Regions from separate parts of the Homo sapiens genome. Here region 1 is linked to region 2. The links come from fine-mapping of genetic effects on plasma protein levels. A gene starts in region 2. The other region holds a variant in brackets. All regions are shown on one strand. Distances are from middle to middle.

Region 1 (16,199 bases), 34 kb before region 2:
TAACCCCCGTGTGTCAAGGGAGGGACCTGGTGGGAAGTGATTGGATCATGGGGTCGGGGGGTGGTGTGGTTACCCCATGCTGTTCTCATGACAGTGCGTGAGTTCTCACAAGACCTGATGGTTTAAAAGTGTTGGGCAGTTGCCCCTTGTGCTCTCTCTCCTGACGCCTTGTGAAAAAGGTGCTTGCTTCTCCTTTGCCTTCCATCTTGACTGTAAGTTTCCTGAGGCTCCCCAGCCATGTGGAACTGTGAGACAATTAAACCCGTATCAGGTGGTATCCTTATATCAGTGTGAAAACAGACTAATACTGGGGCAAACTCTCCAAAAGTCAGAAGGGAATACCAAAGTACTGGGAGGTCAGAAAGGACAAATGGACAACCACTGAAAGCTCCTTGTTCTGTCTTTTCTAAATGAAGTCATCCTTCCAATGGCAGCTGTGGGTTCCACGTCTGTGGATTCAACTGCTGATTGAAAATATTCAGAAAAAAAATTCCGTGATGTTTCAAAAAGCAGAACTTGAACTTGCTGTGTGCTGAGTATGACGCTGAATCCGTAAGAATAAAGTGATGTGTAGCACTGTATTGGGTACAGGTAATCTATAGATGATTTAGAGTATACAGGAGAGTGTGCATAGGTTATATGCAAATACCACACTATTTTATATCAGGGACCTGAGGACTGGTGGATCTTGGTATCCTTGGGAGGGTCCTGGAACCAATCCTCCATGGATACCAAAGGATGATGATAATTGATTGCTAACTTTGCCCTTCACAGGTAGAAACAATTTTACGTGTCTCAGAAAGAACAAAGAGTTTAAGATGGTGATGCTGAGATTCTGGACAAGATGGACATGGTGATCTCTACTGGAATCCGGGGACTGCTGTACTACGGTCATATACTACTGCTGGGGGCCTGGTGTTCCCGGGGTGCACTGGGGGCCTTGCTGTACTGATATGGTCATATGCTACTGGGGGCCTGCTGTTGCTGAGGTACATTGTCAGCAGGCCTAGGCATCGAAAATGACACAACTGTCTCCTGTTCAGAAGCACTTAGAATCTCCTGCATCGTGTAACAAGTGTTTAGAGATCCCTAGATCAGGGACTCTGGGGACAGTTTTTAATTTACTGATAAGTAAAGTTTTAAAATGTGACATCTTTGAGTACTGCTGCCCTAGTCTATTAAACAAAGAGAAGCAATTCCCAGGCCAGGATCATCCTACTAACCCAAACCTGATAATGCTGATGTGGCCCAGGGCTGGCAGGATGGCCTGGACTGTAACTAGGCATCCCCTGCTTCCATTTGCAGACATGTGGCTTTGCCCTGATGGAGACATAGTGACAGATCATTTTGTACTACGTAGGTACAGATCCAAAGGGCATCTTAGGCTGGCTGTCATTAAGTTCCAGTGAGGAACACCTGTCTTCTTCAGTTCCTGTTTCTCCAGTTTGCATGCAGCCTCAGCCCATCAGAAGGCAGCGGATAAGAGTTCCCCCTTGGATGGCTTTAAGTTGGCAAACAGGGGTAGAAAAGAGGCCAAGCTGCGTGGTGGCAGGCACCTGTAATCCCAGCTACTTGGGAGGCCGAGGCAGGAGAATTGCTTGAACCCGGGTGGCGGAGGTTGCAGTGAGCCGAGATTGCGCCACCGCACTCCAGCCTGGGAGACAGAGCCAGACTCTGTCTCAAAAAAAAAAAAAAAAAGAAAAAGAAAAAGAAAAAAAAAGAAAAGAAAAGAGGAGAAGTTCTGAGTTTCTGAGATGGGCTGGAAGCACATGGTCACTACCCATCAGCTGGGCGGTGCTGGGCAAGTTGTTTGACCTGACAGTTTGGTCATCTGCAAAAAGGGATAAAAGTACAACTATTTCATAATAAAACAGCAATCTTTGTGGCTCTATACTATGACGAGTACTATTATTTACATTAGTAACAAGCTCTTCTCAATTTCTAGTAGCCGCTTAGGTTTACCCAATGATAATGAATCAATCAGGAAAAATGGTGTCCCTGTGAAGAGACTAGTTAACCAGAAATAAATAAAAGCTATGGATACCAGCAATGGAACTACACTAGTAAAATCGCTTCCTATTTTCCAAAAGTTTGGGCTTAATCTTCAGACAACATGTTCTGGATAAAAAATGTGAGCCAGGGACAGTGGCTCATAGTATAATACCAACACTTTGGGAGGCCGAGGCGGGCGGATCACTTGAAATCAGGAGTTCGAGACCAGCTTGGCCAACATGGCAAAACCTTACCTCTACTAAAAATACAAAAAGTAGCCGGGCATGGTGGCACGTGCCTGTAATTCCAGCTACTCACTCGGGAGGCTGAGGCATGAGAATCACTTGAACACATGAGGTGGAGGTTGCAGTGAGCTGAGATTGCACCACTGTACTCCAGCCTAGGCAGCAAAGCAAGACTCTGTCTCCAAAAAAAAAAAAGTGAACAATGTCAGCACCATAGGAAAGGTAAATTTTTTTTTTAAATGGGAACAATGGAAAGAAGAGTTACAGTCTTAAAATAAACATATCCTCGGCTAATTGAGAGGACAGCCTGGGGTCTGCCCAAGGGCAGGGAACTGGGCCTCCCTCTTCTGCTTAGTCCCCTGGGACTTAAATTTCCACATTAAAAATACTCTCTCATTTATTTTTACTTCTTTGTCGGGGGAAGAGGGTAACGCCACGGAGATGGTGAATTCAATTTCTTGGACCACTAGGGATATTATTTAGTAATGGAGGTAAAAATATGATATTGTACTAGTTATGCTGTATGTCAGGGCAAGAATCTAATTTCCACTTTCCTTAATGTTATCATCTGAATAAAGTGATTCAAATTAATCAACAATCTGCTTCTAAGAATTTATCTCATAGTATAATAAAAAGTAGTAGCAGTAGATAGATAAAATGTGGTATATCCATATGGTAGAATATTATTCAACAACAGCTACAACATGGATAAACCCTGAAAACATCATGGTAAGTGAAAGAAGTCGATCCCAAGGCGCCGCATACTGTATATTTCATTTATATGAAATATCCAGAATAGGCAAATCTACACACGGACAGTGGATTAGTGGCTGCCTAGGGCTGGAGTCGGAGGTGAAGGGAAATAGGGAATGACAGCTAACAGGGACGGAGTTTCTTTCTGGGTTGATAAAAATGTTTTGTTTTGTTTTGAGACAGTGTTCCACTCTGTCCTCCAGGCTGGAGTGCAGTGGCACAATATCAGCTAACTGCAACCTCTGCCTCCTGGACTCAGGCAATCCTCCCACCTCAGCCTCCCAAGTGGCTGGGACTACAGGTACACACCACCACACCCAGCTAATTAAAAAAAAAAAATTTTTGTAGAAATGAAGTCTTGCGCCGGGCACGGTGGCTCACGCCTGTAATCCCAGCACTTTGGGAGGCCAAGGTGGGTGGATCACTTGAAGTTGGGAGTTCAAGACCAGCCTGGCCAACATGGTAAAACCCCATCTCTATTCTAAAAAATACAAAAATTAGCCGGGTGTGGTGGTGGATGCCTGTAATTCCAGCTACTTGGGAGGCTGAGGCAGGAGAATTGCTTAAACCTGGGAGGCGGAGGGTGCAGTGAGCCGAGATGGTGCCATTGCACTCCAGCCTGGGCAACAAGAGCAAGACTCCACCTTGAAAAAAAAAAAAAAGAAATGAGGTCTCACTATGTTGCCCAGGCTGGTCTCAAACTCCTGCGTTCAGGCTATCCTCCCGAGGCCTGCCTCAGCCTCCCAAAGTGCTGGGATTACAGGCATGAGCCCACCATGGCTCGCCTTGGTAAAAATGTTTTAATACTGATTTTGGTGATCATTACACAACTCAGCAAATACACAAAAGACCAATGAATGGAAATGGATGAGTGGCATGGTATGGAATTCAATCTCAATAGAGTCATTATTAAAAATAGAAGTAATCGTAGTTATTGGGCTGTATTAAATGCCAGCCAATATTCTAAGCACTTTTATAGATTATTTCATTTAAGTCTTATGAGAAACCTATGATGCGAGTACCATTATTATCTGCATTTTACAGATAAGGAAATTCAGCTACAGAGAGATTAGATAACTTGCCCAAAGCTATTTGGCCAGGAAACAAGAGAGCCAGGATCTGAATTTAAGCCATCTGACATCACAGGCCAGTTCTCAACTGCTGCCCATGTACACAAACGTATGGACTCCAGGAGGGGCCCTGCAGTGCTGGTTCTGGCAGGACTTCGGACACAGTCTGAGCCTCAAATACTAAACTGGTGCCAAAGTAATTGCAGTTTCTGCCATTGAAAGTAATGGCAAAACTGCCATTACTTGAGCACCAACCTAATACAAGCTGGTATTTTGTCCACTGAAAAAAGTGAAACAAATCTGCATATCCTGCTATGGAAAGACCAGGACAACAACAAGGTATTTAAACATTGTGTCTTTTTTGCTCCCATTTGCATTTTTTTTTTTTTTTTTACAAAAAGCTACACATGCAAGTGTACCCATACTTGACAAGTTTCCATAATTTTTCATGAAAAAGCATTAACTGTAGCTTTCTCTGAGAAGCAGGTCAATGGTGACAGGGACATTAAGGTTTTTTCTGGATACCTTTTGGTACTGTTTGATTTTAATTTTTTTTTTTTTCTTTTGAGACAGAGTTTCGCTCTGTCGCCCAGGCCAGAGTGCAGTGGTGCGATCTCAGCTTACTGCAACCTCCACTTCCCAAGTTCAAGCGATTCTCGTGCCTCAGCCTCCCAAGTAGCTGCGATAACATGCACATGCCACCACACCCAGCTAATTCTTGTATTTTTTGTAGAGAGGGGTTTCACCATGCTGGCCAGGCTGGTCTCGAATTCCTGAGCTCAAGTGATCTGCCCACCTTGGCCTCTCAAAGTGCTGAGATTACAGGCGTGAGCCACCACACCTGGCCAAATTTTTGAATTTTTTTGTAGAGTTGGAGTTTTGCCATGTTGCCCAGGCTGGTCTCAAACTCCTGACCTAAGTGATCCTTCTGCCTCAGCCTCCCAAAGTGCTGAGATTACAGGCATGAGCCACTGCGCCTGGCCTGATTTGAATTTTTAATAAACCATGAGCCTGGTGGGAGCCACCCAGTCGTGCTCCAGTTTCAACGGAGCCTTCTCTAACTCAACCACCTCCCACCCTCTTGGGTATCACAGGCTCAGAGCCACCATTTTGTTTTATTTGTACCTCTTGATGCCTCATGACTCTGCCTGTCTAGCCTGTAAGTGTCCTGAGGACAGACACCGTATTTGTTTCTTGCTAAGCAGGGGCAAACACATAGGCAGATCCCCTCGGTTCCCATCAGAGAAACAAATGAGTAAATGAATTAAAGTCAAACAACTTGACCTCACCTGCCAGCCTCAAGGTCATGAGCAGTGACTGGTGGAACAGAAGAGTGTCACGCTGTAAACCATGTCTGTCATATGAACTATGTCCCCGCTAGCACTGGGAACACTGTGACCTAAGAAGTCTGGAGTGGAACTCAAGTAAATGATTTATTCCTTTGATTAAACACATTTACTTTCATCTAGTCCCAGAGAATTTATGGAGCCATAATCCCTTCCATCTCTAATGCTGTTCATTATCTCTTCCTAATTAATGAAGGTATGTAAATTCATTGATCTAAAACTTTGCAGGCATAAACGTTACTCAGGTAGTGATCCAGCCCCACACTGCTAACAGCTCAAGCTTCATCACGTTCTACCAGTTTTTAAATTACACATGTTATCAGACAAGATTCATTTAATTTTGCAGCTAACAGCTACAGCTGATTATGCTGGCTGCTAGATATTTATAGCAACTCTTGTTGAATCTGTACTGTTAACCTGCTTAGGATATAATTAATAAAAGAGATTTAACTGTCTGACATAATAGGCAGCTTTGTATGATATAAAATATGCTTTAATGTGCTTTCGGGAAAAAAAACATTAAGAAAGGTATATTATCCAAGTGAAATTTGTTACATTGCTACCTTGCAGATCAATACAAAATTTCTTCACAAGAATATTTATGGATGATGACAGTGGTATTTCACTCAAATAATATATAAAGAAAGAAGGGAATGGTAAATTTTTTCTACAAACCAAATAATACATATTGAATAGAACCTACCATGGCTTTCCAATAAACTACTTAGGAACTGGGGAAAAACCATACAGAATTTGAAACATGCAGGTGACTTTCTAAATTCTGGGTTCGCGAAATATATGTCCTCACCCGTTCTGGCATTCAAATGCGCCATTTTCCAACCTCTCATTATTTTTTTTCATTCCACATTCTGATCACTTGACCAATTACCTGATAATTGAACCCCTTTGGGATCATGCTCCTTTTCAGTGCTTCATTTCGTTGCAGAAAATAGGCCCATCAAGGAGGCAAAATGTTCTAACTCCAGGAAATGAGTGTTTAGAGCAAAAACAATGAAAAAGAAGATGTAAATAATCCAGTCAGCTAAGCACAAGCTAGAAAGACACTCGCTTTGTCTATGGCATGTTGATTTGCCAGGGGATTGTGCAAACTTCTGCAGAAGGCGTTCATTAGCTCCAGAAAACCCCAAAGGGAGGCAGAGGCGGGTGCATCACCTTAGGTCAGGAGTTCGAGACCAGCCTGGCCAACATGGTGAAACCCCATCTCTACAAAAAAAATACAAATATATATATATATAGAGAGAGAGAGAGAGAGAGGGAGAGAGAGAGAGAGAAAGAGAGAGAGAGAGAGCTGGGTATTGTATTAGTACATTTTTGTGCTGCTGATAAAGACATACCTCAGACTGTGAAGGAAAAGGGGTTTAATTGGACTTACAGCTTCACGTGGCTGGGAGGCAGAAGGCGTTTCTTACATGATGGCAGCAAGAGAAAAATGAGGAAGATGCAAAAGCAGAAACCCCTGATAAAACCATCAGATCTCGTAGTATGGGGGAAACCACTCCCATAAGTCAATTATCTCCCACTGGGTCCCTCCCACAACACATGGGAATTATGGAAGTACAATTCAAGATGAGATGTGGGTGGGGACACAGAGCCAAACCATATCAGGTGTGGTGGCGGGCACCTGTAATCCCAGCTACTTGGGAGACTGAGGCAGGAGAATTGCTTGAACCAGGGGGGCGCAGGTTGCAGTGAGCAGAGATCACGCCACTGCACTCCAGCCTGGGTGACGGATCAAGACTCCGTCTCAAATAAAAAGAAAAGCAAAAACAGAAAACTCCAAGGAAGCACAGGAGGTAGGCTCTAGGACTCTTCTGCTCAGAGGGCTGGTCTGGTGTCTCTGATCAGACTGCCATAGCCGATTTGCCTAACGGCCTCTACAATCATGGTCTGCTATGAGCGACAGCATTCCCAGGTGGGAGCAGAACACAAGAGCATTCAGATCCCAAGTCATTTTGGCTCCATGGTTGCTCAGAGGTCCTCATTTTTTTTTTTGAGTCATGGAGCCTGTATCAGTCATGTGCTCCAGGGAACCAATAGGAGATACACAGATATGTAAGAGGAGGCTTAGTAAGGGAATGGGTTCACAGGGTCACAGGGGCCAAGAAGTCACACCATCTGCCATATGTAAGCCGGGGGTTTCATTCAGTCTAAATCCAAAGGCCTGAGAATCAGAGAAACTGATGGTGTTAGTGCTGGTCTGAATCTAAAGGTCTGAGAACCAGGAGTGCCGATGTCCAGGGGCAGGAGAAGGTAGACGTCTCAGCTCAAACAGGAGGCAAATTCATCTTTTCTCCATCTTTTTGTTCTATTCAAACCCTCAATGCATTGGATGATGCCTGCCCAAAATAGTGAAGGCATATCTTCTTCATTCAGTCACCCTCACGAACACACCCAGAAATCATGTCTTCTCAGCTATCTGGGCACCTCCTAGCCCAGCCAGGCAGACACGTAAACTGAACCATCACCAGGTCCTTGAAGGATCTGATGAGAGCTGTGGACCTTCTCCCCACTGCAGTCCCCAGAGCATCATCACGACCTCAAGCATCTATGCAAACACACTGGACTTTGCAGAGCTGACAGGGCCCACTGGCTGGATGAAGCCCATCCATGGAGCTCACACCCAGGTAAAGAAACCTACGCCGAGAAATTGCCCTACTGGGGTGCAGTGGCTCATGCCTGTAATCCCAGCACTTGGGAGGCTGAGGCAGGCGGATCATCTGAGGTCAGGAGTTTGAGACCAGCCTGGCCAGCATGGTGAAACTCCATCTCTACTAAAATATAAAAATTAGCTGGGTGTGGGGGTGGGCACCTGTAGTCCCAGTTACTTGGGAGGGTGAGGCGAGAGAATCACTTGAACCCAGGAGGAAGGTTGCAGTGAGCAGAGATCGCGCCACTGCACTCCAGCCTGAGCGACAAATTGGGACTCTGACTCAAAAAACAAAAAACAAAAAAACCCCTGCCCTATTGGACACTGTATGACTTAGTGCCCCAGAAGGAAAGTTTCATAAAAATTTTCTTTAAAGATAAGATTTTCCAGGAAAAGCTGAATTCCTCTTAGATACGGATAAGATGTTGTTTCTTTGACAACCTCTCTCTGGCTGAACCTTCAACTGAATTCTATCAACCAAAAGGACTCTTAAGACCTTTCTGTTTCGCCCTGCGGTTTTGTCTTCCTATATGAACTTTTATTTTCTTTGGTCCTGACATATTTCTTCTCTACTGTGTGCTTTTGCTCATTTTAAGCCTTCTCAAATGCTTCACTGAACAAATAAATAAGGCGAGGCTCTCTGTTTTCACTTTTTGATCTAAACACTGGAACCCAGACGGAAAGATTATGCTTTTTATTTTTAACCTAATCAAAAGGCAACTGTTAACTAGTCCCTATTATTGAGCTCTTGCTACTTCTTTTCATTGAATAATCAAATATCCACACTTTTCTAGCTACGATTAAGACTTCTGGCCTTTAATTAAAGGTACAGTTTCACCATTGAGTTTATATTTTGGTCAATTAAAATAGCCACATGTTGACCATGAAAAGGTACCTCCAAAAAGTCAAAGAACAAGAGTATGTGCGTATGTACACACAGGTGTGGGCTCTTATTCTGGGGCCATGGGGATCTGGGGTTCATCCTGTGAACTTCGATGGGAGGAAACCAGTTTTTTCATGAACTTCTGATATTTAGCATTTCCTTCTATTATGAAGTTAGTAGAAATTACAGAGGTATTAACAACCCCCTTGAATTTCACACCAACAGAGATCACATGGATTTTTTTTCCCATCACATCACACTTGTTGCAGATTAATTCAGGGTATGGTTTAAACTCACTGCCATTTTTTCTTTTTCTTTTTTTTTTTTTTTGAGACGGAGTTTCACTCTTGTTGCCCAGGCTGCAGTGCAGTGGCACGATCTCGGCTCACTGCAACCTCCACCTCC[T/C]GGGTTCAAGCGATTCTCCTGCCTCAGACTCCCAAGTAGCTGGGATTACAGGCACATGCCCCCACACCTGGCTAATTTTGTATTTTTAGTAGAGACGGGGTTTTACCATGTTGGTCAGGTTGGTCTTGAACTCCTGACCTCAAGTGATCCACCCGCCTCAGCCTCCCTAAGTGCTCTGATTACAGGTATGAGCCACTGTGCCTGGCCTTAAACTCAACTGCTATTTTGAAACTATGACAGTTATTAGCTCTGCTATTAGACTGTGTTATATAATAGACCAACACATGAATTATTACTATATCCAATAATTTAAAAAATATTTTGATAACCGTATTTCAATAGAATTGGTTTCCTCGAAAATCCTAGGAACTTTATTTTGTGTATTTAGAAATATTATTCTGAGATGGGATCCAGGGGCTTCAGCAACTTGATGAAGGAATCCGAGGCACAAAATGGGTTAAGACGCCGAGACTTGGAATAAAGGACTGACAGCAGCCAGTGTGTCTCCTCTGCCGGACTGCCACGTAGAAAATGCTGGCAGGGGTGGAAGGGCGATCACACACCTAATCAGAAACAACTTTTTAAGTAATATTCCCAGTTCCCTAATTAGTCATATAAGGTAAATTAGTTCCAACCACTTTTAATCAGCCTCAGCAGAAGGGCGGCATTGTCACTGATTGCCTGGATGATTTCACCGGGCTCATACTGGATGTGAAGGAGTGCAGGAGCCAGGGGGCTTGGCTGATTGCTCCCAGGTTACTGCTCAGCATTCGACCCACACGCGACCTGCTGGAAAATCTGAGCACAGACAGCCCCGGCCCATTCCAGAGGCTGGTGATATTTCAACTATGGCATCACTCTCTTGCACGCATAGAACTCCCTTTTTATGTTTCTCTGTGTTAAACTGTAGGGTAAATTGTCTTTAAATCCTGGCATTTCTTGGAGCCTGGTGTAGACACTTAAACATAACAACGCAAGGCTAATGACACAGCTGCGGAAATAAACGTGATTTAACTGAGCCTCTTTAAAAACAAAACCAAACAAAACAAACAGATCCTACTTTAATATGAACAAAACGGTTTCTGTTCAATGGAAATGTTCTGAGTATCTATGACATGGTAGGCGGTGCAGGAACTTATTGCTTACATGAAAGGGATGGAGGCTGTTGGCTACAAATAAGAGATAGCATGGAAGAAAAGTCCTGGTCAGTCCCTGTCCCTGAGAGATGTTCCCCAGAGAACTGCTAAGAGAACGGCCTGGTGTGCTCTCAGTGCAAATGGCGCTGAGGCAGATTCTAAACCCAGGCAACCCTCTTGGACTTCAAGCCTAAAGAAATACTTACCTGACTGTACAACAGCACGTCTGAGGATGCTCACAGCAGCACTGTTCAAATTAACTCCCACCTGGCGTTACTGCAAGATTAACCAATTATGAAATCCCCATCCACAGAACGCAATGCAGTTATTAAAAGCCTCACATGTATGTACAAATGTAAGGTTTTCTAGACAGATGGAAGGAGAAAAAGTAAATCACACAACAATGTGCACAGTATGATCACGTTTGTATTTAAGAAAAGCATGCTGACCAGGGCGTGGTGGCTCACACCTGTAATCCCAGCATTTTGGGAGGCCAAGATGGGTGGATCACCTGAGGTCAGGAGTTTGAGACCAGCCTGGCCAACATAACAAAACTCTCTCTACTAAAAATACAAAAATCAGCCGGTGTGGTGGCACACACACCTGTAGTCCCAGCTACTCGGGAGACTGAGGCAGGAGAATCGCTTGAACCCGGGAGGCAGAGGTTGCAGTGAGCCGAGATCGCGCCATTGCACTCCAGCCTGGGTGACAGAGTGAGGCTATATCAAGGAAAGGAAAGGGAGGGCAGAAGGAAAGGAAAGGGAGAGAAGGAAAGGAAAGGAAAGGAAAGGAAGGGGGAGGGGCGGGGCGGGGCTGGGAAAGGGTGAGCATGCTGACATTGATGCACACTTTTGACCACAGTGACCCCGAGGGAAGCACTTAGGGGGTGGTCAAAGTTTATTTTAAATATAGATTTTAAATTTACAAGGAGAATGTCTCTACATATTACTTGTAGAATTTAAAAATCTAATAAAGTAACAATAAAAAGATCCGTATCTACCCTCATTTAAATCCTACAGGAGACTAGGATGACAACAACAAAAAACACGGAGAACTTCATGTTTCAATATATCTACATGTATCTATATTCCTTATTTCTAAGTGAAGCACAGATTTCTGTCTGTTTCATTCACTAACACAGCACAAACATCTAGAATAGTGCCTGGTGCAAAGTAGACTCTCAATACAGATTTGTTAAATAAATGAATTGACTATTTATTCATGTGTTCCAGAAAACTGTACTGGGTGCCTACCATGTGCTGGCTTCTTGCTAAAGATCACGGGAAACAAACTGTGAATCATTTAACCAGCATTCACTGAATACCTTCCACGTGCCTTGCACTGGGCACTAAATGAAAGTACACACCAATACGGACACACAGACACACACACCCCCACTGCCCTTTAGGAACTTGGAACTAAGCTTGGGAGAAGGCGAACTAGCAGAGGTTGGAGCAATGAGATAAGGCCTTTTCCTGGCCAGAGCCTCAATCCTGGCTTTGGTTTTCAAAATTATGCCTCCGAGGCTTTGCTTATTATGGCCTGTCTTGTACCAGAATTATGTTCATGGGTTTGTGTCTGCCCAGCTGGAGGAAAATGAGTATCAACCTTCCTGGATTGTGGAACCACAGAAAAACAAAGGGCTTTATTCTTTGCCTGAAGCCCAGCAAACCAAAGCATTCTTTGTTCAATGGCTTTATTTCCCAATTCTATACATTCATTACAGAATTAGAAACCTCCCAGTGGGGGTCAGGCATGGTGGCTCATGTATGTAATCCCAGAACTTTGGGAGGCCAAGGCAGGTGCATCACCTGAGGTCAGGAGTTTGAGACCAGCCTGGCCAACATGCAGAAACCTTGTCTCTACTAAAAATACAAAAATTAGCTGGGCTTGGTGGTGCATGCCTGTAATCCCAGCTACTTGGGAGGCTGAGGCAGGAGAATTGCTTGAACCCGGGAGGCGGAGGTTGCAGTGAGCTGAGATCGTACCGCTGCACTCCAGCCTGGGCAACAGAACAAGACTCTGTCTGAAAAACAAAACAAAACAAAACAAAAAAAAACAAAATTCCTAGTGAGGAAGGAGTGTTGATGGTCATTTGGCCATGGCTACTGTTATCAGGACCTTGGTCTAGGCCTTGACATCTAATTGAAGGTGAACAGCTACCAAACTAGATGAATTAGAAGTTTTCAGGTCTCACTGGGGCATTTTCCTGATAGAAAAGCCTAACTCCTTTCATCAGTAATTCTACTTTACTTCCCCATAGCATCTCCCATTCTTAGACGCACTCTACTGATTTGCTTCCTCTCCTCTCCAGACTTTTGCAGCCATATCTGCACAAATCCAGCCCTTCTTTACCTTGAAGTTCAGACTTTTCTACCTAAGTGGATTATTCTGCTTTATCTATAGCAAATATCACTTTTGTGCATGCTCCCTCTCCTCCATTTGTTGGAATCATTTCTAAATTCAATTCCATTTTCATATTGAGTCTCTTTGGTCCCAATAGAAATGGTCCCCAAAATTCAAATATCAGATGTCTGGGACCCTTTTAACTTCTGAAAATGCAGTTACTGGGCAATGGATGTGCGAAAGTTAACTCGGGGAATGACATTAAATCAGAAAAGCCTTCTGTTTTTAGTGATGAAAAGCTTCTTCATCTATAAATCCCAAAGTATCAACTTTGCAGATCCATAAGCTCTTATCCCAAACCCCCTAGGCCAGATCTCATTTGAAATTCCAAGTTTTTCTAACTTTAGAATGGTAAGACAGGTCATAGAACACATATTAAACAATACTTCAAGCTGGGACTCGGGCAGTGCCCTGTAATGAAATCCAGTAATATTTTGTTAGCAAAACATATGAATATGCTCACTAAATATTGGGATCAATAAAGACCATAAACAGCCCTTTGTCACTTGGAAGGCAGTTTTGCCACCAGCTTAGTTTCAAACTTAAGAAAAAACTCTTAGTTTTCAGAGCTTTCTGAACTTTTGAGATGGTAGGTAAGGGGTTATGTACAAGTGCAAGACCCAAACGAAAGAAGCCATTGTAGCTCTCTTAAGCATTCTGCATAAAGACCCTTTTAAAGTATATATGTGTGGCCGTTTTCCTGAACATCAAAGGGCTATTTTGGAAGTCCTGTAAGAAGAGGTCATCCTGCGTTATTCAGTGTTGTGTAAAAAGCAAAGCAAAACCTACAAACTTAAAGCATTTCCCTTTAAATGCTGAGCATGTGTAAGTCTAAAGGAATAATGGTTCTCCTGATATACACCATTATCAGTTAAAAGGAATGTTCACAAACCACTTGCATACACACAAGATTACATTTAATACATTAAAAAGTGGCCCCGACTCGGCGTGGTGGCTCATGCCTGATAAGTCCAACACTTTGGGAGGACGAGGCAAGCAGATCACTTCCAGCCAGGAGTTCAAGACCAGCCTAGGCAACATGGTGAAACCCCGTCTCTACTAAACATACTAAAATTAGCCGGGCATGGTGGTGCACACCTGTAACTCCAGCTGCTCGAGGCTGAGGCATGAGAATTGCTTGAACCCGGGAGGTGGAGGCTGCAGTGAGCCGAGATCATGACACTGTACCCAGCCTGGGCGACAGAGTGAGGCTGTGCCTCAAAAAATAATAAAAATACATAAAAATACACAAATAAATAATAAAATAAAAAGTGTCTGTCTCAGCCACCCACGTGAACAATCTGTGGTGATTTGGCATCACCGCGATTCCTGACTCTCAATTTACATGCTACCAGTAAACAATCATTTTGTTACACCTATTCACACCTAAGTACTTAACAGTAAAAAATATGACACACCATTAACACGGGAGAAAACAGTGTGCCCAGGGAAACTAAGCAGCACAGTGGCATCACTGGAATACCTGCCTCAGCTGTTCAGCAGCAACAGATGACAGCAGGCTTCCAGTCTCCACCCACAATGCTGCGTTCTGACTCAAAGGCTCCTGTGCACTGTATTTTATTTTTTCAGGTGAGAAGAAACATCAGAAGCAGTTGAGGGACCAGAAAGTGAGTCCGCCAGGGATGAGGAGGCATTCTGCTAGATGGCTTTTTAAAAATGTTCCCTCCAAGCTGGGTTCAGTGACTCAACACCTATAATCCCAGCACTTTGGGAGGCGAGGAGGGCAATCACTTGAGGTCAGGAGTTCAACCAGCCTGGCCAACAAGATGAAACCCCATCTCTACTAAAATTACAAAAATTAGCCAGGTGTGGTGGCAGGCGCCTGTAATCCCAGCTACTCAGGAGACTGAGGCAGGAGAATCACTTGAACCCGGGAGGCAGAGGTTGCAGTGAGCCGAGATCATGCCACTGCACTCCAGCCTGGGGGACAGAGTGAGACTGTCTCAAAAAAAAAAAAAGTTCCCTCCAGAGTCATCTGCCTTATTAACAAGGGCTTTTGTCTTAGAAATCTCTTTTATTAACTGACACAATTTCTTGATCTGTTATGAATGCATGCTGTTCTAGTCCTTCAAAAGCTCACCACACATTGCTATGGTTTAAATATTTGTGTCCTCCAAAACTCATGTTGAAACGTAATCCCCAGTGTGGCAGTTCTGAGAGGTGGGGCTTTTAAGAGGTGGCTGGATCGTGAGGGCCATGCCCTCATGAATGGATGAGTCCATTCATGGATTAATGAATGAATGAGTTAGTGGATTAATGGGTTATCATGAGAGTGGGACAGGGTGCTTTTTTGTGTGTTTTTTGTTTGTTTGTTTGTTTGAGACAGGGTCTTGCTCTGTCACCCAGGCTGGAGTGCAGTGGCATGATCACGGCTCACTGAAGCTTGGACTCCCAGGTTCAAGCAATCCTCTCGCCTCAGCCTCCCAAGTAGCTGGGTCTACAGGTGTGCACCACCATGCCTGGATAATTTTCTATTTTTTGTATAGACGGGGTTTCACTATGTTGTCCAGGCTAGTCTCCAACTCCTGAGCTCAAGCAATCCACTTGCCTTGGCCTCCCAAAGTGCTGGGATTATAGATGTGGGTCACTGCCCTGGGCTGGTGGCTTTTTAAGAAGAGCAGAGACCCGAGTTAGCACACTCAGCCCCCTCCCCATGTGATGTTCTGTGCCACTTTGAGAGTCTGCAGAGAGAGTCCCCACCAGCAAGAAGGCCCTCAGCTGATGTAGCCCCTTGACCTTGGACTTCTCAGCCTCCATAACTGAAAGAAATAAATTTCATTTCTTATAAACGACCCAGTTCCAGATATTCCATTATAAGCAACAGAAAACAGACTAAGACACACATTTTCACCATGTCATCTATGGGTACTTTTCCTGCAGCACTGCCATCATCCTCATCATCACTACTATAGGTTGAGTATCTCTTATGCAAAATGCTTGGGACCAAAGGTGTAGAGTTTTCCACTATGGTGTCATGTCAGTGCTCAAAAAGTTTCACATTTTGAAGCATACTGGATTTTCAGATTAGGGATGCTCAATCTATCAGTGCTTCTTGAACCTCATTGTCCATACAGTTCATCTGGGAATCTTGTTAAAATTCTGATTCAGATCCATTAGGTCTGGGCAGGGCAGAGATTCTACATCTCTAACAGCTCCATCTGCTGCTCTGGGCACCACCTTCTGTCTGACCAGCCAGGCTGCAAAACGAAGCGCACAAGGTTTGGAAACAGATGAACAAGAGTTCCCAGTTTACAAGCTGAGTGGCCTTGGGAAA
Region 2 (16,199 bases):
CAGGCTTTCTAGCTAAAGAGCAAATGGCAACAAAATGCAATTTTTGCAGTTTCTCACAATAGCAATCTGCATAGTGAATCACAATCTAAATGTCTCCAGCAATACCCTTCAACTGCTCTGGGGACTAATCTTATTTCAGCAGTTTAAAAAAAAAAATCACACACCAAAGAGTAGCTAAACAATATTTACCACTTTGGGACTCTTTCTGACTTAACAATCGTAATGTCCCCACTGTGAAGCTGCCAGAATGGTATGCAGCAGATAAGAGTGTCCTTCATTAGTGGCTGTTTAGGGGTTGGGGGTCTTTGGGGGCAGTTTCAGCACGGGGTGCAGGGTTTCTTCTTGGATTAAGGAAAATGTTCTAAAATTGATTGTGATGGTTGTACACCTCTGTGAATACACTAAAAGCCACTGAATTGTACACATTTACACTGTTGAATCAGAAAGAAGCCCAAAGTGGTAAATATTATTTAATTAACAATTCACATGGTGAACTGTAGGGTATGCTAACAGTTGTTAAAGGAAAAAAAAAAAATAGTGTCCTTCAGGACCCTGTCCCTCCCCCCACCCCCAAAATAATTAACTGTGACAGCAATATCCTCAAGAGTCTCCAAATGACTTGTCCTAAGTACAGGTTGCATATCTCTTATCTGAAATGCTTGGGACCAGAAGAGTTTCAGATTCCAGACTTTTTTCAGATTTTGGAACATTTGCATATGCAAACTGGTAGTGCATTCCTAATCTGTAAAATCTGAAATCCGAAATGCTTTTGAGCATGACCTTTGATCATCAAGTCAGTGCTCAAAAAGTTTCGGTCGGATCTTAGAGCATTTTGCAATAGGGATGCTCAACCTGTACAAAGGTAAATTTACCCAACCTCTCTTTTCTTGGCCTAAATGCATCCAAAAGGCAGTTTTTGAGACACACAAAAGATTCTGAGTCATGGCTTGGCTGCCACAATGGCCGTCCTTCCAAAATCTTTATCTGCAACTCTTCAGAGAACTAAGAAAGCAGATGGGCTGGGACTTCGTGGCCAGGCGGCTTTTGGCATCACTGGCTTTGGCTGACGCCATTCGAGACAACGGTTAAAGAGGGGAAAAGACATTTCCAGAACCTCTCTCACTTTTCAAGAGCAGAACTCCACTTGGGGTTTGCCTGGTTTTGGTGGATATTTGCTGTTATTTTTTTTCCCATTTCCCTAACAAGACAGCAGGCAGCTGCTGTCCCAGGCAGCACTCTGGGAAGAACTGGTAGAAGGCGCCTTCTCTGGGCAGAAGCAGCTGTGTAGGCACATGGCCAGGCTAACAGAAGCCCCAGATGCAAAGAGAAGGTAACCCTTCCCCCGGGCAGATGTGCTCCATGTGAGGGCACCCACCTGGTAGGCAAAACCTCTGCCTCTAGATGCTCTGGAGTAGTGCACACAGTGCACAGCCACCTGGTGTAGTCATGCAACTTTTTTTTTTTTCAGAGTCTCGCTCTGTGGCCCAGCCTGGAGTACAGTGGCATGATCTTGGCTCACTGCAAACTCCGCCTCCCAGGCGCATGCAGTTCTCCTGCCTCAGCCTCCAGAGTAGCTAGGATTACAGGTGCCAGCCACCATGCTCAGCTAATCATTGTATTTTTAGTACAGATGGGGTTTCACCATGTTGGCCAGGCTGGTCTCAAACTCCTGACCTCAAGCGATCCACTCGCCTCAGCCTCCCAAAGTGTTAGGATTACAGGCGTGAGCCACTGTACCCAGCCAACAACTTCTATTGGTTTGATCAACACCTTGGTCTCAGCTTTGTTTAGTCCGGAGACTCCATGGTACATGAGAGCAGTGGGTTGGACAGATACACCCAGGTGACCCAGGTGGAGTGTATTCATTCATACTCATCCATTTACTCAATATTAAATGGTCACTGAGGCCAGGCGTGGTGGCTTAGGCCTGTAATCCCAGCACTTCAAGAGGCCAAGGTGGGCAGTTCACTTGAGGTCAGGAATTCAAGACCAGCCTGGCCAACATGGTAAAATCCCATCTCTACCAAAACACAAAAATTAGCCAGGTGCAGTGGCATGCACCTGTAGTCCCAGCTACTTGGGAGTCCGAGGCAGGAGAATCACTTGAACCCAGGAAGCAGAGGTTGCAGTGAGCCAAGATCACGCCACTGCACTCTAGCCTGGGCGATAGAGCAAGACTTTGTCTTAAAAAAAAAAAAGCCACTGAGTGTCTACTACTGCTAGACACCATCCTAGGTCTGGGCTTCTTGCTCCTCAAGAATTTATAGTGTACAGGTAGAAAAAGACAGCAAAGTCACAAGAAGAAACATACAACTGGCCAGGCACTGTGGCTCATGCCTGTAATCCCAGCACTTTGGGAGGCTGAGGCAAGTGGATTACCTGAGGTCAGGAGTTCCAGACCAGCCTGGCCAACACGGTGAAACCCCATCTCTACTAAAAAATACAAAAATTAGCCAGGTGTGGTTGTGTGCACCTGAAATCCCAGCTACTTGGGAGTCTGAGGCAGGAGAATCGCTTGAATCCAGGAGGCAAAGCTTGCAGTGAGCCGAGATCATGCCACTGCACTCCAGCCTGGGCGACAGAGTGAGACTCTGTCTCAAAAAAACAACAAAAAAAACTCACAATGAGATACTACTTCACACCGATTTGGATGGTTATAATAAAAAAGAGTGGCAATAAGAAATGTTGGCAAGGATATGGAGAAACTGGAACCCATATACACTGCTGGTGGGAATGTAAAATGGCGCATCTGCTTTGGAAAATAGTTTGGTGGTTCCTCAAAATATTAAACATAGTTACCGTATGACTCAGCAATTCCAATCCTAGGTATCTACCCAAAAGATATGAGAACAAATACCCTTAAGAAGATGTGTCTGTGACTGTTCATAGCAGCTTTATTCCCAATAGACAAGAGGTACCCAGATGCGTGAAATGTCCATCAGTGTCAAAAAAAAAATGTCCAAATGTTTATCAATAGGTGGTCGGATAAACAAAATGGGTTATCTATACAATGGAATATCATTTAGTAAAAAGGAACAAAGTATTGGTTCAAGCTACAAAATAAGTGAGCCTCAGAAACCTTATGCTACCACAAAGAGGCCAGTCACAAAAGACCACATATTTTTCCATTAACATGAAATGTCCGGAAAAGGCCCATCTATGGAGGTAAATTAGCAGTTGCCTGTGCTGGGAGTGGCAACATGAAGAGACTTGCAAGTGGGTATAAAACCACTTTTTTGGGAAGGTAGAGATGTGCTAAAGTTAGATTGTGACTACACCACTCTAAAGTTAATAAAATCCCTTGAGTTGTAAACTTAAAATGCATGTTATGGTACATAAATTATACCTCAAGAAAGTTATTAAAAAAATTTAGGCCAGGTGCGGTGGCTCATGCCTGTAATCCCAGCACTTTTGGAGGCTAAGGCAGGAGGATTGCTCGGGTCCAAGAGTTCAAGACTAACCTGAGTGACACAGCGAAACTGTCTCTACAAAAAATATAAAAATCAGCCAGGCGTGGTAGCACCTTCTCTGTTCCTAGCTACTCAGGAGGTGGAGGTGGGAGGATCGAGCATGGCTTGAGCCCAGGAGGGGGAGGCTGCAGTGGGCGGAGATCATGCCACTGCACTCCAGCATAGGTGACAGAGTAAGACCCTGTCTCCAAAAAAAATTTTAAAGCAGGCAAGGCCCAGTGGCTCACACCTGTAATCCTAGCACAGGGATTTCCAATCTTTTGGCTTTCCTGGGCCACAACGGAAGAACTGTCTTGGGCCACACATGAAATACACTAACATTAATGATAGCTGATGAGCTTGAAAAAAAAATGGCAAAAAATTCCGAACTTTTAAGAAAGTTTAGGAATTTGTGCTGGGACACATTCAAAGCCATCCTGGGCCACATGTGGCCAGCAGACCATGGGTTGGACAAGCTTGTCCTAACAGTTTGGGAGGCTGAGGTGGGAGGATAGCTTCAGTTCAGGAGTTCAAGACCAGCCTGGACAACACAGTAAGACCTTGTCTCTACAAAAAAATACTTAAAAATTAGCCAGGCATGGTGGTGCACGCCTGTAGTCTCAGCTACTCAGGAGGCTGAGGTGGGAGGATCACTTAAGCACCACAGGTTGAGGCTGCAAATCAGCCATGATCACACCACTGTACTCCAGCCTGGGTGACAGAGCAAGACCACCTCAAAAGAAATAAAATACAATAAATAAATAAATAAATTTTTGAAAATGAAAAACCCCGACATTCAAAAATAAAATTAATTGTGTTTTCTGGAAATGTTATAGTGCAAACTTTTTACATATGTGTGCTGGTCACTCTATCCCTTGACTGATGATTACAACAAAGAGTTGAGAAAGTAATCATAAGCCCTATTTACTCACAGGAACTCTCAAATAAGAGGACCTTCAAATATATCTCAAATAAGAGATAACTAGTTTGGCCTAAATGTATGGCACAATTTAAAGCATTTATTTCATCATCATCATCCTGTTAGAATTTTTAAAACCACAATATTTTCAACTTTGTTCAAACTTGGAGATACCTTTCCAGGTCTACTATTTCTAGAAAAGTTCTTAGGTGAGACCTGCAAGAGACAGAGTGAGTTATTTTTTTACTGACACTATTCTCTGCCAAGGGAGAAGTTTTCCAGAGAGTACAAGGAAAGATTCAGGATTAGCAAATTCCATCAGCTTCTTAGGAATGAAATGTCTGGGAAAATAATCTTTTTAAGAATACCACCCATTAGTCCAGTTCTCTGAAGGGAAAATATCAAACTGGAAAAACAGATTCAGACCTAAAAATAATTAAGTCACTTTAAAAGCATATTTTATCTTGATCTCTCTCCCTTTTAGGATTTCTTCAAAACAGAAGCCATAAACTTCTCAAAAGACAATTACTAGAAGAAAGTAGTCCTAATTAGGATATGTGTCAAGAAAACCTAATTATCAATTTGCCTAATTAAAATGAATATCTGAACATGCCTTAGGAATGTGAGCTTTCTCAGGTGAGACATGTACAATTTTTTTTAATCAACATCCGTCAACAGAGCCTAGCACATTATGTTAACAGGGAACGGATGACTGAAACCAAGTGTCACACATACCACTACTGGAAGGAGTTGATGGGAATACTGTTACTCACGTAAATCACCGGTGGGAGGAAATGGGTCTTAAAGCAAAGCGCTCTTTCATTTAATTGGCAGGCTACACTTGGAAAACAAACTGCTCAATGAGCTGATTCTGCAGCAAAGGTGAAGGGTTCAGAGCTGTGATTTTTAGGGACTGTTGCTTGAGTTAATCAAACCCCTTTGATGGTGTGTGTTTTGGCAAGAGAAGGGGAAAAGTCAGTTTTTTTTTTTTTTTTTTTTGAGACACAGTCATCACTCTGTCTCCTAGGCTAGAGTGCAGCGGGCAATCTTGGCTTACTGCAACCTCCGCCTCTCAGGTTCAAGTGATTCTCCTGCCTCAGCCTCCCAAGTAGCTGGGATTACAGGTGCCTGCCACCACACCCGGCTAATTTTTTTAATTTTAGTAGAGATGGGGTTTCGCCATGTTGGCCAGACTGGTCTTAAACTCCTGGCCTCAAGCAATCCACCTGCCTCGGCCTCCCAAAGTGCAGGAATTACAGGCGTAAGCCACTGCTCCCAGCCTCGAAAAGCTAGTTCTTTAACTTTCTCAGTCTGCCCAAGGGGCAAATCTACTGGCTTCCCAAGGAGTCTGGAGAGGCCTCTGATGCCTCTAAGGGCACCTCTCCAAGTTGCCAGCGATGCTAATAGAGTCAGGACCCCGGGGAATTGTCAATGAGTGCAATGGAAGCAGCAATGGTAGGCTAGGGTTCAGCACCTAGTAATGTGAACCCACAAACCTGGGGTTCTCAGCAGAACACTCTGAGGCTGGGCCTCTCTAGGCCCTCCGTTAAATGACCCATCCTGGGTGTGTCTATGGGACTGCATGGCTCACAGAGGAGATCAAGTGCTGGCCCCACTTCTAGATTTACTCGGGGCTAAGAAAAGTTCAGAGTCACTCTCTCCTCCTATCAGCAGGGTAGGTATCTTATAGATTTATCATCAAGTCTCTCTCCAGCATCCCCATTCTTATCCAGGGGAGCTGCTCTCTGATCCTCTGGTCCCAGTGGTGGCCCCCTGGCAGCTGCAATGGCCTAGGAAGCTACTATACCTCAGCACTCCCACCATCTCCACTGAAAGACACCCCGTGCCCAATAGGCACCTCCAGCTACAGCAAATAAACACATTCAAAGTAAACAATGGGGGCCAAGTGCGGTGGCTCATGCCTGTAAATCCCAGCACTTTGGGAGGCCGAGGTGCCTGAGGTCAGGAGTCCCAGACCAGCCTGGCCAACATGGCGAAACCCTGTCTCTACTAAAAACACAAAAATTAGCGGGCATGGTGGTACATGCCTGTAATCCCAGCTACTCGGGAGGCTGAAGCAGGAGAATCGTTTGAACGTGGGAGGTGGAGGTTGCAGTGAGTAGCATCACTGCACTGCAGTCTGGGTGACAGAGCTAGACTCTGTCTCAAAAAAAAAAAAAAAAAAGTAAACCATGGGGGACTACAGAAATGCAGCCTCTGGACAAATCCTTGAGCTCCAGCTTCCAACTGGATTGCATCCCAAGTTGCTCTAAAGTAGAAATGCTTTTGTTGCCATTGCTGCAATCAGACCACTCTTTTCAAAATAAAAATCTGATCATACATCCTTGCTTCCTCACACATCCAGCTTGAAACCTCTTGATGCTATTAGGACACGACAAAAATCCTTAGTTACCACCACCTCCCTCTCCAGCCTCAGCCCACACCATGTCCCAACCTCATCTTTCTGCTCCAGACTCAGAGACTTCCTTCAGCCCTCATCCTTCCCTTTCCCATCCTGCCATGTCCTAGGACTCTCACACTTGCTCTGCCCATGGTCCACATGGTCTTCCCTCCCTTCGTGGCCCAGTTAACTCATACTCCTCTTTTAGCAATCAGACGAAGCAACACTTCCTCAGGGAAACCCTGCGTGAATGACCTCAGAGCCCACCAGTAGCCAAGCATTATTTTTTGTGCCCTAGCTTTGTACCTGGATTATTACAAGCCTCTGAGAGCATGTAACTTGAACCACTCCCCCGCCCCCAACTTCCTATTCTCCACCATACTGGACAGTGCAATAGGAATATAAGAAATATTTATTTCCTTTCGGTTTTTTTGTTTGTTTGTTTTGAGCTGGAGTCTTGCTCTGTTGTCCAGGGTGGAGTGCAGTGGCACATTCTCGGCTCACTGCAACTTCTGCTTCCCAGGCTCAGGCAATTCTCCTGCCATAGCCTCCCAAGTAGCTAGGACTACAGGCATGTGCCACCACACCCAGCTAATTTTGTATTTTTAGTACAGATGGAGTTTCACCATGTTGACCATGCTGGTCTCGAACTCCTGACCTCAGGTGATCCACCCGCCTCAGTCTCCCAAAGTGCTGGGATTACAGGCGTGAGCCACCGCGGCCGGCCCTCAACAAATATATAGGCGTGAGCCACCGCAGCCAGCCCACAACAAATATTTCTTGAACTGAAAAAAAAAATAATACAGCAGAGTAACAGGGAACTCTCATATACTGCTGGTGGGAGTATAAATTGGCACTACCACTTTGGAAGGCAGTTTGACCACATCTAGTAATGCTGGGGATGATTATACCCTATAACCCAGAACATAGCTTGTAGGTATATGCCTCAGAGTAACTCTCCCATGTGTCCACAAAGAGATTTGTACAGAATGTTCATAACAGCACTGTTACCAAGGGCAAAAACCAGAAACAACTAAATGGCCATTGTATTAGTCAGGATCCTTGCAGGAAATAGTTGGCATTCTCAAATTAGGATGATTTTAAAAAGGGTTTAAAAAGGGATTACTTGGTGGGGGTTGGGTGGACGAAACCTACAAGGGAGTGTGGTAACCCAAGGTTAGAAAAGCAGAACCACTGCCACTCCCACGCCTCAAAGGAGGAAATGGTTACTCAAATCCAGAACTAGAGAGAATGAGGAGAAAAGCTGTCCTGAGAAAAGGAGCGACCTTGACCTTCAGGGGTGGGGAGGAAGACAGCCAGGCGAGGCAACCCCACAGAGTAAACTGCAAGAATAAATACAGCTGCCTTTTGCTTCTCTCCCTGCTCTGATTTCTTCTCAGGGCTCCCCACTGGCTGAGCCCAAAGGAAAACCAAAAGGCAAGGAGCCCACCGATGTAGCTCACGGAGGGCAAACCCCTGGGGCATGGTGGGGAAGGGAGAAAGGTTTGGAGAGGCAAAGGGAAGATATTCAGCATATACATCAACAGAATGTATAAGGTATATAATCATCCAATGGAATGTTGCCCAGCAAGAAAAGAGCAAAATCTTCATGTTGGACAAAAAAGACAAGGTCCATTAAAATACAGTCGTCCCAGGCCGGGCGCGGTGGCTCAGGTCTGTAATCCCAGCACTTTAGGAGGCTGAGGACGGCGGATCACCTGATGTTGTGAGTTCGAGACCAGCCTGGCCAACATGGAGAAACCCCATCTCTACTAAAAATACAAAATTAGCCGGGCGTGGTGGTGCGTGCCTATAGTTCCAGCTACTCCAGAGGCTGAGGCAGGAGAATCGCTTGAACCCGGGAGGCGGAGGTTACAGTGAGCCAAGATCGTGCCACTGCACTCCAGCCTGGGCAATAAAGCAAGACTCCGCCTTAAATGAATAAATAAGGTTTTACCATAGAATTACCGGAGAAACCTACTTTAGATAAGGTAGCAGGTAAAGTCTCTGAGGAAGTGAATGAACTTTAAAATGAGGTGTGACGGTTGAGAGAGCCAGGCTCACCAACCCTGCTAAAGAAGCAGAAAACAGCAAGCGCCAAGACCCTCAGGGAAAGAACGGCCTTGGCCCTTTTAAATGCAGTTCAAACAAGGGCAACAACAAAACCTGTTGCAGAACTGGGCAAGAGAGAGAATGACAACCCTGAAGGAAGTGGACACAAGCCTGATCATATAGGGCATTTAGGGTGACTTCCCTGGGGGTATAAAGCTGGTGAGAGCCTGGGAGGCGATCTGGCTGCAGGCAGCAAAAAGCCACAGAGGGGAATCAACAAACCAGAAACAAACCTCCCTCTTTACTTAGCACCTAGCATGCGTCCAACACCGGGTTACAAAAATACTTTTGATCTGTTTACGCTTCCAACAACCCTATGAGGCAGGTATTATCAAACCCATTTTTAAGGCAAAGCAGATAATCTAAATCCAAAATCCAAGCACTTCACTACGACTCTCGAATGCCCTCCCTCTCTACTGCTCTGATGGGGCAGTGTTACCATTTCGGTGAATGACTTAAATAAACGTCATTATGGAGTACAGAATACATAACGGTGAACAACCTTAATAAAACCGACACCCTCTAACATGCACCGAACGCTTATCCAGTAACACCCACAAGTATTCCCGTTTCACAGATGTGGAAGCTGAGGCCAAGATGCTAATGCACAGCTTGGAAACCAGGTCTCGCTGCAGAGTCCAAGCTGTCATTAACTATGCTTTGCTACCCTCCTCTTACTTCCCTTCTCTGGGGGAAGTTAGGTCAAGGCCAAGGAGGCTCCTAGACCAGATCGCTCTCTCGGCCTCGCCTCTCAACTGCGCCCCTGGAATCCCTAAGAGCAGGCTTTGATGCAGCTATGGCGGCTCCCAGGCCCCGGTGCAGCCCCGGATGGTGTCCGACTGGCGGAGCGCACACCTGAACAAAAGGTTCCCCCGGCGGAAGGTTCCGCAGCCCCAGAGTCCCCTCCCCGGGTGAGGGGCGGGCAGTACCTGCGGGAAACGCGGCCAGGGTCCTGCCCCTGGCTCTGTGGAAAACACCCCCCGCCTCTGCAGCCGACATGGCGAGCGAGTTTCTGGCCTTCACTTAGAACACTGCGTGGGTGGAAGCCGCGCGACTTCACACAGAACAACCGCTGGACCTGTCCCGCTTTGGGCGACGCCCTTTGATCTCGGGGCGGGACTGGGGCGGGACGGGGAGGGGCCCGGTGGCTCGGGGCGCCACTAGTGCTGCCTGGGCGGAGCGGAGGCGCCAGCGGCCCCTCTGGGATCGACCTGCGCGCCTGGCGAGTGGAGACTGTCTAGGGCACGCGTGGGCGGGGATAAGGCTTTGGGGTCAGTCCTTCCCTAAAGGCAGAGTTACTAGATTTAACAAGTAAAAATGCAGGACTCCCGGTTAAATTGGAATTTCAGATTTTTTTTTTTAAAGAATGACTGACTTGGTATAAATATGTCCTATGCAGTATTTGGGAGCTACTTACGTTAAATTTTTTTTTCATTATCTGAAATTCCAATTGAACTGGGCGTCCTAATTTTTTTAAATTTTTCTCTTTTTGCAGGTTTGAATGGAAGCGTCCTGATTTTTTTTTATCTGACAACTCTATCATAAAGTCAGAAGGAGCCACTGGGGTGGCTTACGCCTGTAACCCCAGCTCTTTGGGAGGCCAAGGAGGGAGGATCGCTTGAGTCCAGGTGTTGGAGACCAGCCTGGGCAACACGGCGAGAGACCTTGCCAATACAAAAAAAAAAAAAAAAAAGATGAAAAGGTGGACGTCTTGGAAGACTGTCTCAGCCTGAACTTCCCAGTGGCTGCCACCATCTTTCTGTTATTATCTTTGCTTGCTATGCACCAGGCAGGGCGCTAAGCACTTTGCACGCTGCTCACTTAATCCCCACTACAGCCCTAGGAGGTGGTGCTGTTATTAGCTGCATCCGTCATTTGGGGAAACTGACGCTCAGAGAGATGAACGAACTTGCACAAGGTGACACACATCTAGAGAGGTAGTAAAGCTGCGAGTAACCAAATTAGTGTCTCTTCAACTCAAGAGCCATTGTAGTGAACTACTTAGCCAGCATTTGTCAAACGTGTTGAAAATACAAATTCCAGAATGGACCTATTGAATCCAAATCTCTATGAAAATGATCTGTGTTTTGTTGTTGTTGTTGTTGTTTTGAGACAGGGTCTCACTCTGGTTGCCTAGGCTGGAGTGCAGTGGCACAATCTCTGCAGTCTCGATCTCCTGGGCTCAGGTGATTCTCCCACCTCAGCCTCCTAAGTGGCTGGCACTATTGGCGTGCGCCACCATGCCTGGCTAATACTTTGTATTTTTAGTAGAGACGAGTTTGACTATGTTGCCCAGGCTGATCTGGAACTCCTGAGCTCAAGCAATCCACCCACCCGGGCCTCCTAGAGTGCTAGGATTACAGGCATGAGCCACAGTGCCTGGCCTGAAAATGATCTGTTTTTAACAAGCACTGCAGGGGAGCTCTTATGATCTTACAAATTTGGGAAATTCTTTTCTAAACTAGCTGCCTACATCCAAAGCACTGTTTGAGTAGCTAATATGGCCATAACTACTGTTCTCTAATCCTTGACAAGAGTCACCCATGAATCATAGTGGTTAAGAGTATAAATGCCTATGAGTCCTGGAGTCAGTGGGCTTGGATTAATCCCGGTTCTACCCACTTACTGGTTGTATGCTCTTGAAAATTGCATAGTTTCTCTATGCCTCAGTTTCCCTATCTGTGAAATGGAAACAATAGTAGCATCTAGGTCATAGGGTTGCAGAAAGGCTTAAATGAGTTCATGTATCAAAGTGCTTAGAATAATAGTTCTAATAACAAATGGTAGGTACTCAATGAATATTAGCCATTGTTATTATTAATCAATCACTATAACCCTATTCCCTGAACATGGCCTGGCCCAGAGGAGGAGTCCCAAGAAATGTGAAGGAGGCCGGGCGCAATGGTTCAGGCCTGTAATGCCAGCACTTTGGGAGGTGGAGGTGGCGGATCATGAGGTCTACAGATCGGGACCACCCTCGCCAACATGGTGAAACCTCATCTCAACTAAAAATACAAAAATTAGCTGGGTGTGGTGGTGCACGCCTGTAGTCCCAGCTACTCGGGATGCTAAGGCAGGAGAATCACTTGAACCCGAGAGGCAGAGGTTGCAGTGAGCCGAGATCCCGCCGCTGCACTCCAGCCTGAGCGACAGAGTGAGACTGTGTCTTTAAAAAAAAAAAATGTGAAGGGGAAGCTGAGCACAATGGCTCATGCTTGTAATCCCAGCATTTTGGGAGGTTTAGGCAGGAGGATTACTTGAGCCCAGGAGTTCAAGACCAGCCTGAGCAACATAGTGAGAACTCATCTCTATTAAAAAATTTTTTTTAATTAAAAGAAATGTGAAGGAGAGAATGAATTATAGAAACAGACCCTGCCTCTTATTCACTAGCTTTGCAGTCATACTGGCCATTCAGTTCATTAAACATGCAAATTAATTTCCCTCTCTGCATATGCAGTTCTTTCTGCTTAAAATGCCTCTTCCCAGCTGGGCACCGTGGCTCATGCCTATAATCCCAGCATTTTGGGAGGCCAAGGCAGGTGGATCACGAGGTCAAGAGATCAAGACCATCCTGGCCAACATGGTAAAACCCTGTCTCTACTAAAAATACAAAAATTAGCCAGATGTGGTGGCGCGTGCCTTTAATCCCAGCTACTCGGGAGGCTGAGGCAGGAGAATTGCTTGAACCCGGGAGGCGGAGGTTGCAGTGAGCTGAGATCGCGCCACTGCACTCCAGCCTGGTGAAAGAGCAAGACTCTGTCTGAAAAACGAACAAACAAACAAAAAAGTATCTTCCCCTGCTGAGCTAAAGCCCATTTGAACATGAAGGCCTGCAGTTAAATAACACTTCTGTGGAGAGGCCATGCCCTACCCATTTGCACACTTTGCTGATCTAAACTAGGCCTCCCTCATTCTTTGTTAGAGCACTATGTTCTTGTCCCTTGTTGCACTTTGCACAGTTGATAATTATATGTTTTCAGGTGTAATTATTTATTTAATGTTGACTTTCCCGACTCAACTATAAGGTCTATTAAGTTGGTTACCTTTTTAAAAAATTTACTGTTTTGGCCGGGCACAGTGTCTCACGCCTGTAATCCCAGCACTTTGGGAGGCCAAGGCAGGCAGATCATTTGAGGTCAGGAGATCGAGACCAGTCTGGCCAACATGGTGAAACCCCATCTGTACTGAAAATATAAAAATTAGGTAGGCATGGGAGCACGCCTGTAATCCCAGCTACTTGGGAGGCTAAGGCAGGAGAATCACTTGAACCTGGGAGGCGGAGGTTGCAGTGGGCCAAGATCGTGCCACTGCACTCTAGCCTGAGTGACGAAGTGAGACTCTGTCTCAAAAAAAAAATTATTATTTATAAAGATGGTGTCTCACTGTTATCCAGGCTGGTCTTGAACTCCTGGCCTCAAGTGATCCTCCTGCCTCAGCCTCCCAAAGTGTTAGGATTACAAGCATGAGCCGCCACGCCCAGCTGAGGGCAGTTACCTTGACTGTCTAGCTCACCAAGCAGGATGCCTGAGGCATAGACACTAAATGTTTGTTGCATTAATAAATAAATGGATTATGAATATCTCAACAAGATAACCATATTTTGAACCTCAGCAGCAATTGGGAATAGATCTATAGGCCAATCTGGAGCAACTTCAAAACTGTACCAGTGCATTGGATGATAGCAATAGCTGCAATTGTGAAAGGAAAATAAATATTGAGACCCCAAAATCACTAAGCCAAGGGGAAAAGTCAGGCTGGGAGCTGCTTAGGGCAAACCTGCCTCCCACTCTATTGCTGAAACAGACAGCTACTAAGGCTGGGTACAGTGGCTTACACCTGTTATCCCAGCACTTTGGGAGGCCGAGGCAGGAGGATCACTTGAGGTCAGGAGTTTGAGACCAGCCTGGCCAACATGGTGAGACATCCATCTGTACTAAAAATACAAAAACTAGCCAGTTGTAGTGGTGCATGCCTATAATCCCAGCTACTCGGGAGGTTGAGGCAGGAGAATCGCTTCAAACCACAAGACGGAGGTTGCAGTGAGCTGAGATTGTGCCACTGCGCTCCAGCCTGGGTGACAGAAGGAAACTGTCTCAAAAAAAAAAAAAAAAAAACCTACTAAGATAAAAAAGCTACGTACGTCGCTCAGAAGGAATTTCCTTGTAGACAAAGGACAGACAGAACTCAAAGTTATCCCTCTGCTCACTGAGATAAATGCATTTCTGACTGCCTCCTCTGGAAAAGCTAATCAGAAACTGGAAAGAATGCAACCTTTTTTTTTTTTTATTCCCCCGAGACAGAGTCTTGCTGTGTTGCCCAGGCTGGAGTGCAGTGGCATGATCTCTGCTCACTGCAACCTCTGCCTCCCAGGTTCAAGCGATTCTCCTCCCTCAGTCTCCTAGGTAGCTGGGGTTACAGGCATCTGCCACCACGCCCAGCTAATTTTTGTATTTTTAGTAGAGACGGGGTTTTGCCGTGTTGGCCAGGCTGGTCTTGAACTCCTGACCTCAGGTGATCTGCCCGCCTCAGTCTCCCAAAGTCCTGGGATTACAGGCATGAGCCACCGTGCCCAGCCACCTTTTGTCTCTTATCTACCTGTGACCTGGAAGCCCCCTCCCCACTTCGGGTTGTCTCGCCTTTCCAGACGGAACCAATGTACATCTTACATATATTGATTGATGTCTCATGCCTCCCTAGAATGTATAAAACCAAGCTGTGCCCCGACCACCTTGGCACGTGTCATCAGGACCTCCCAAGGCTATGTCATGGGTGCACATCCTTAACTTTGGCAAAGTAAACTTCCTAAATTGTCTGAGAACTGTCTCAGACATTTGGGGTTCACACTTTTTTTCTTTTTTGAGACAGAGTTTTGCTCTTGTCGCCCAGGCTGGAGTGCAGTGGTGTGATCTTGGCTCACTGCAACCTTTGCCTCCGGGGTTCAAGTGATTCTCCTGCCTAAGCCTCCCAAGTAGCTGGGATTACAGGTGCATGCCACCATGCTAGGCTAATTTTGTAGTTTTAGTAGAGACAGAGTTTTACCATGTTGGTCAGGCCGGTCTTCAACTGCTGACCTCAAGTGGTCCACCTGCCTCGGCCTCCCAAAGTGCTGGGATTACAGGCGTGAGCCACCATGCCCAGCCTGGTCTTGCCAGAGGCATTTGAACCAGAGAGACTCCATCTTGAATAGGGGATGGGTAAAATAAGGCTGAGACCTGCTGTGCTGCATTCCCAAGAGGTTACGCATTCTAAGTCACAGGATGGACCTTAGGAGGTCGGCATAAGATACAGTCGTAAAGACCTTGCTAGGCTGGGCGCGGTGGGTCATGCCTATAATCCCAGCACTTTGGGAGGCCAAGGCAGGCGGATCACCTGAGATCAGGAGTTTGAGACTAGCCTGGCCAACGTGGAGAAACCCCATCTCTATGAAAAATATAAAAATTAGCCAGGTGTGGTAGCAGGTGCCTGTAATCCCAGCTACTTGAGAGGCTGAGGCAGGAGAAGCACTTGAACCCGGGAGGTGGAGGTTGCAGTGAGCCGAGATCATGCCACTGCACTCCAGCCTGGGTGACAGAGCAAGACTCCATCTCAAAAAAACAAAACAAAACAAAACAAAGACCTTGCTGATAAAACAGGTTACAGTAAAGAAGCCAGCCAAAATGAAGATGGCAATGACAGCAAACCTCTGGACATCCTCGCTGCTCATTATACACTAATTATAATGCATTAGCATGCTAAGAGATACCCCACAAGCACCGTGACAGTTTACAAATGTCATGGCAACATCAGGAAGTTATCCTATATGGTCTAAAAAGGGGAGCTCTCATTTCCAGGAATTCCCCACCTCTTTCCTGGAAAACTCATGAATAATCCACCCCTTGTTTAGCATACAATCAAGAAATAACCATAAAAATGTGCAACCAGCAACCCTCAGGGCTGCTCTGCCGATAGAGTAGCCATTCTTTTATTCCTTTACTTTCTTAATAAACTTGCTTTCACTTTACTGTATGGACTTGCCCCAAATTCTTCCTTGTGTGAGATCCAAGAACCCTCCCTTGGCGTCTGGATAGAGACCCCTTTCCAGTAACAGTCTTATGGCCCCCACCCAGGCACTGACTTTGTGCAAAGATGACAACTTCCCCATGATTTCATTTCTTCTATTTTTATTTTATTTTATTATTATTTTTCTGAGACGGAGTTTAGCTCCATCACCCGGGCTGTAGTGCAGCGGTGCGATCTCGGCTCACTGCAAGCTCTGCCTCCCGAGTTCACGCCATTCTCCTGCCTCAGCCTCCCGAGTAGCTGGGACTACAGGTGCCTG

Which allele goes with the higher level. Positions count from the first base shown, and alleles are read on the strand shown. Strength reflects both the effect of a copy and how common the allele is.
For the plasma level of the protein whose gene starts at base 9,991 in region 2, C is the high allele of the variant in region 1 and T is the other (strong association).

Evidence for each region. PIP is the chance, under the fine-mapping model, that this variant and not a neighbour inherited with it causes the effect. Protein levels are from antibody-based Olink assays in UK Biobank. Linkage for the fine-mapping came from a reference panel and not from the study's own genotypes, which makes the PIPs less certain.
Region 1: its variant is fine-mapped to the plasma level of the CPPED1 protein (UK Biobank, PIP above 0.99).

What each region holds. Positions count from the first base shown.
Region 1 is chr16:12,759,596-12,775,794 of GRCh38, forward strand. All of the region lies in intron 2 of CPPED1 (calcineurin like phosphoesterase domain containing 1), which reads right to left. It overlaps LOC105371090 (a long non-coding RNA gene), which reads left to right. Exons shown (of 3, transcript XR_007064993.1): 3 at 775-954. Among named protein-coding and RNA genes, the nearest start is that of CPPED1, 36 kb to the right of the region's middle. The variant T/C (reference allele first, on the strand shown) is at 9,363.
Region 2 is chr16:12,793,897-12,810,095 of GRCh38, forward strand. CPPED1 (calcineurin like phosphoesterase domain containing 1) reads right to left here and starts at 9,991. Exons shown (of 4, transcript NM_018340.3): 1 at 9,811-9,991. The coding sequence starts at 9,880. RefSeq lists enhancers at 8,171-8,250, 9,573-9,942 and a silencer at 10,023-10,072.